2 separate regions of the Homo sapiens genome follow, and region 2 is linked to region 1. Evidence: fine-mapped expression QTL. Tissue or cell type: whole blood. Region 1 holds a variant in brackets; the other region holds the start of a gene. All regions are shown on one strand. Distances are between the middles of the regions.

What was found. PIP is the estimated chance that this variant, and not a neighbour inherited with it, causes the effect.
Region 2: RTN4R starts here. The variant in region 1 is the best candidate, but not a certain one, in a credible set for the expression of RTN4R in whole blood (TOPMed, PIP 0.88).

The regions. Positions count from the first base shown.
Region 1 is chr22:20,157,706-20,160,456 of GRCh38, reverse strand. No RefSeq gene overlaps it. Among named protein-coding and RNA genes, the nearest start is that of CCDC188, 8.0 kb to the right of the region's middle. The variant C/G (reference allele first, on the strand shown) is at 1,185.
Region 2 is chr22:20,267,220-20,269,830 of GRCh38, reverse strand. It overlaps RTN4R (reticulon 4 receptor), which reads left to right and starts at 1,513. Exons shown (of 2, transcript NM_023004.6): 1 at 1,513-1,760. The coding sequence starts at 1,739. RefSeq lists silencers at 1,250-1,309, 1,360-1,519, 1,610-1,769 and an enhancer at 1,981-2,611.

The DNA of each region.
Region 1 (2,751 bases):
GGGGCAGGGACGCAGCCACCCTCACGGCCCAGGAGTCACGCCTCACTTCATCAGCCCTCATGCCAAAACGCAGACCCTCCCTACCAGAGATGGGCCCGTCGGCAGATGGGAAGACTGAGGCCAGAGAGGGCTGAAGGAGCTGGAGGGCTGGAGGAACTGGTGGGCCAGAGAAGCTGAAGGGCTAGAGGAGCTGGTGGGCTGGAGGAGCTGGAGGGCCGGAGGAGCTGGAGGGCTGGAGGAACTGGTGGGCTGGAGGAGCTGGAGAGCTAGAGGAACTGGAGGGCTGGAGGAGCTGGAGGAACTGGTGGGCTGCAGGAGCTGGTGGGCCGGCCGGCCCAGCTCCACTTGCCCTGCCTGCCCCCAGCAGACACTGCCCTCCTCTTCGTCCCCAAAGCCCCCACCCGGCCCAGATCCTCTCCTGAGATCAGTATCATCCCACAGCCTTTTATAAAAAATCGTTTCCTTGATTATCGAGGGTAACAATGAAAACATGTAATTGAATCTCCAAGAAATTACCATTTTTATAACTTGCGCCCAGTTCCCGAGATAAATTAAACGCCTCCCCTGTATGGTGAGCCGCTCACTGCGCATCAGAGAGGGGCTGATACTGCCCTTTATCATCGATGCGGGACTTACTAAGAAGAATGCCTCACACTGCCTCCCGGGAGGCTCCTGGCACCTCCAGCTCACGGCCCTGAGTGGGCAGAGTTGGCCGGCTGGAGACGCCGGGTGGGTGGTCGGTTGGGCCCCCTCCTGATCACTCCTGGCCTAGCTGCTGGCTAGCTGGGTGGTGGTGTGGGTGGTGGGTGGGAGGACTGGTCAGGGTCTTAGTCCAGGCTCCCAGGAAAATCAGGCCTGCGTGCTGGCCAGGCAGCAACAGCTTTCTGAGCAGTGCAACCCTGGAGCCAGAGTAGGAAAAAGGCAGGGAAGCCGGGCAGGAGGAAGGAAGCGGAGATGGCAGAGAGGGAGGATTTACCCACCTGCCCCCCACCTGCTGGCCAAAGCTGATCCCACCCAACTGCGCCAGTGCCCAGAGGACCCATGACATTGCAAGGTCAGGCAGCAGAGCGGCTCTGGGGGAGGCAAGGCCCCGCTGAGGCGAAGCACCTCCTGGCACAGGGTCCGGGAGCAGGTTGGGGCAGCAGGGTGGCCACACCCACCCAAGGAGCTGCTGGGTTGGTCAG[C/G]AGAGGGGCGGGGAGGTGGGGCCAGCTCCTGGGATGGGCTGTCCATCTGTGAGCGGCTGGTAGTGGGTTTCCTGCTGGCAGTTGCTAGCAGCTGGGTTCTCGTGGCTGTTTGGCTGGCTGGGGGCCGTTTGGGTTGTGGGGAAGCAGAAGGCTCCAGCCTGTGGATTCAGTTTCCTGAAAATGTCTGCAGGCTGCACTCAGCAGAGCCAACTTCAAGCAAAGGACCCAAGAGTGACACTATTCTCGTGCAAACCACCATCCACAGTAGCCGGTTGCCTGAGAGCCCAGAGCCACCCCCTGGGGAACATCCACAGATCAGAACCCTGGCAGTGGTGGTGGCACAGCGAGGAGGGGTGCTGTCAGGGGACAGAGGACCTACTCCCTGAGGATGGGAGAACTGAGGCCCAAAGAGCGGCCTCCCACTTGATCTAGGTGAACTCAGGGTCAAGGGTAACAGGCTGAGGTCACCCAGGAGCCTCAAAGGCTGGCTCTGAAGGTGAGACCTTCTTTTGGGGACGCAGGTGGCCTCGGGTATCCCCTGGCAGCCGGCACAGAGGACTAGAGTCAGGTGGGCCGGGAGGAACACAGTTCAGGAAGGGGCGGGTACCCACACCCACAACTGTGCTCCCACCTTCTCTCCCTCCCCCGCCTGGTCCCTGACTTCCCAGGGTCCCCTCCTCCCGCCACAAGGCCCTGCTGCCCAAGGGCCCACCTGGAGGCTCCAGCGGGGTTTGAAACCCCCACAGTTGGGCAGCAGCACGTAACTTCTCAGCTGTGCTGGGCAGAGGCAAGGGAGGCCCCAGCACCTCTCATCGCAACTCCAACCAACATGGCAATGCGGGGCTGCAGGGGCAGACTGCCTGAGGACAGGGCTGGGCTCAGACCCCAAAGCCCAGGGTTGAGAGAGCCTCTCCTCCACTTTGCAGCCATCCCAGGCCCATTCCTCAGAGCCTGAGGCACCAACTTCCACCTGCTCCCAGCCCCACTCCCACCCAAGCCCCAGATCCCTCATCCCACCAGGATACAGCCCAGCCCACAGCCTGGCTCTAAGAAGTAGGCTTGTCAAGCCTGAGGGCCTCCAAAAGGGCTCTGTCTCCAGGCCCCGGGGAGGGCAGAGGCCCCAGCCCAGGTCAGAAAGGGGCGGAGTGGACGCAGGGCCCCAGAAGGCCAGCACTGAGATCCCTCCCCTGCCATGTCCCCAGTAAACCTCTGGTGTGTCCCCTTGAGGCCCTCATGAGAAGAATAAGGCAAGCAGGGTGGAAATGGTTCGGTCACTCCAGAGCAGTAGCCGTACCCAGCCTCCTGGCCAGCCCTCCTCCCCAGACCAAGGCCCAGGTGGCATCTCCCAGGGCAGTGCCAGTGCCAGCCTCCCGCCCTCCCCTGCTGTGGGGGCCGAGGCAGCAGTTGGAGGTGGGGGCTCCACCTCCCCAGCCTCCATCATTCCCTCTCAGGTGACTCTCCATGTGGTTTGCCTCTTGGAGTCCCTGCAGGGGGACCCTACTGAACTTAAGCTGGCCTCCTGCACGCTGGGAACCCGGCCATCCCTCTGGTTCCTGGTTCTTCCTCC
Region 2 (2,611 bases), 110 kb before region 1:
TCCCACTGGCTCTGTGAGCTTCGCCTGAGGTTCCCTATCTGTGCAATGGGTGATGACGTCTTGGTGTGGCTCTGGGAGGACCTGTTGAGCCACCTCAGGGGCTGAGCTGGTGGCACTCGGCAGCCAGCACCCTCTGGGGAGGTGGCAGTGTGTGCACAGCCCACCCCTTCAGGAGGCCAGGGGACAGAGTGGCTGGGGGTGTCTGGGCCCCACCTCACCTTCTGTGTGGCTGGGAATGGCATGCACTCCACAATGCCCTCATAAGCCTAGGCTGGGACAAGGGTGATAGGGATAAAGCAGGCCAAAGTGATGAGGGCCACAGAGCGGCAGCCAGAGGCATGTGGGCAGTGCAGCCTCCACACCAGGCAGAGGGCCCACCCAGCATGGCTCCACCCTGCGAAGCTGCCTGCCACTGGGATCAGATGGGAGCACCAGGGCTCTGGGAGGTCCTCACTTCCTCTGCACAAGGCAGGCAGGTCACCGGCCCTGCGCCCTGCTCATCTCCCTCAGGGCCACCTCCATGGCCAGGGGCAGGCAGAGGGCACAGGGGTGCCCAGTCACCAGGTCTCTCTGCTTCATATCAGTGGACCTGGGCTCTGAGGGGGGCCATCAAGGCATCAGGCTGGCCCACTCCGTCCTTGAGTCAGGGTCCTACAGACTGACACCAGGTGGGCCTGCAAGACCCTCATCTGCATGGTCCTCTCATGCAGGGTGGGCCTGGGGAGGACCCAGCCCGGCTGAGCTGACTCCCAGCACTTCTCCAGGTGCAGGGGCAGCCTGGCAGTTGTCTGAAGACCCCGGGATGCACTTAGGAGCTCATCGGTGAGGCCCGGTAGGTGCCCCGAGCAGAAGATTGAGAAGGGACACCTGCACCCCTGTGTGGTGTGTGCAGGGGCGTCACTGGATTCTCTGGCCCCATGCCTCACACCGCCCGTGGGGGGCTGGCTTGGTAGAGTGGGGGGATACTAAGCAGGTGACCTCGGAGAGCGTCTTCTGGGTTTGGAGCCCCCATTCCGCAGAAGGGAAGAGGTGGGGGACCCCTGCAGGGTTACGGGTAACATCAGGCCTAGGTCCCTTCTCTAGGATGGTGCAGAGAGGGCCACAAAGGCCCAGGAGGGCCCCCAGAACTCTCTTAAGCCCTGAGCCTGTTTCTTACTGAAAAATGGGGGCGATCGTGCTGCAGCAAGGGGCTTCTGTGCAGGGGGCGGGGGATTCATGGGTTTCGTGAGGCCAGGAAGGGAGTGGGTCAGGCAGAGGCCATTCCTAGGCCTCGGGACAAAGCCCTTGCCCGCTTGGGGACCGGGCCAGCCTAGGCCGCCACACCCTCGGGCCCGCGTCCCCGGCCGGCTCCGGCCCGGGCCGCCATCCCCTCCGCCGCCTGCAGGGGCCGCCGCCTCTTCAGGAATGCGCCGCCTTTGTCTGGGACCGCGCGGCGCCGGTGCACCGGGCGGGCTGAGCGCCTCCTGCGGCCCGGCCTGCGCGCCCCGGCCCGCCGCGCCGCCCACGCCCCAACCCCCGCGCCGCCGCCGCCCTCGCCCTGTGCGCCCTGCGCGCCCTGCGCACCCGCGGCCCGAGCCCAGCCAGAGCCGGGCGGAGCGGAGCGCGCCGAGCCTCGTCCCGCGGCCGGGCCGGGGCCGGGCCGTAGCGGCGGCGCCTGGATGCGGACCCGGCCGCGGGGAGACGGGCGCCCGCCCCGAAACGACTTTCAGTCCCCGACGCGCCCCGCCCAACCCCTACGATGAAGAGGGCGTCCGCTGGAGGTGAGTGTCCGCGCTGCACCCGAGCCCGGCCGGCGGCGGGGCGCGGAGGGGGGCGGCTCGCCCCCTCCCCGGAGCCGCAGGGCCCGTCCCGGGCTGCCGAGGCGAGGGAAGCGTAGCCGGGCGGCAGGGAAAGCCACCGCAGTGCCGCGCCAGGCTGGGGCCGCTGGCGCCCCGGCCCCGGGAGGGCGGAGCCGGAGGCGGCAGGAAAAGTTGCCGCTTCCCGGGAAAGTTGACGGCTTCGGCAGGGCCGAGGGTGGCGGTCCGAGGGTCCCCGATGCTGGGCCAAGTCGAGGGCGGGGGCCGTGGGCTGGAAGGGCGGGGCCCGGCCTCGGAGCGCCCCGGCCACCAAGGGGTTAACGAGCGGGTTTTTGCAGAAACGTGGGTACCGAGGGTGGGTGGGGGTGTCGGGCCGCCTCCACCCCAGCCTCACGGTCTGGGCTCAGAACCTCCCGTTTCTCCGAGGTCAGTCCACAGTGGGATGAATGGGGGCGTTGGCGGCAGTAGAGGGCGTGGGGGACAGGGTTGTCCCAGCGCTGCCTCCAGGGCGGGCGGTGAGAGGAGGCAGCAACGCCCGCCATCTGCAGCCCGAGGGACATTGAGAGGCTTGGCTGGGGGAATCAGGGGCGGTGGGGCAATCAGCAACCCCTCCCTAGCAGCCCTCGTGGGACTCCCCCGCCCCACCGGCTGTGAGGTCCCGCGGTGCGGGCAAGGGAGGGTGGGCTCCATGTGAGTTGGGCATGCCCCGCCTGGAGGGTGCTCCCCAGGTGCCCACCCAGGCTGCCCTGCTGATGTCCATGGTGCCGCAGGCTGCACACACGTTTCCTTGCACGTGCACTTGTCTACACGGACTG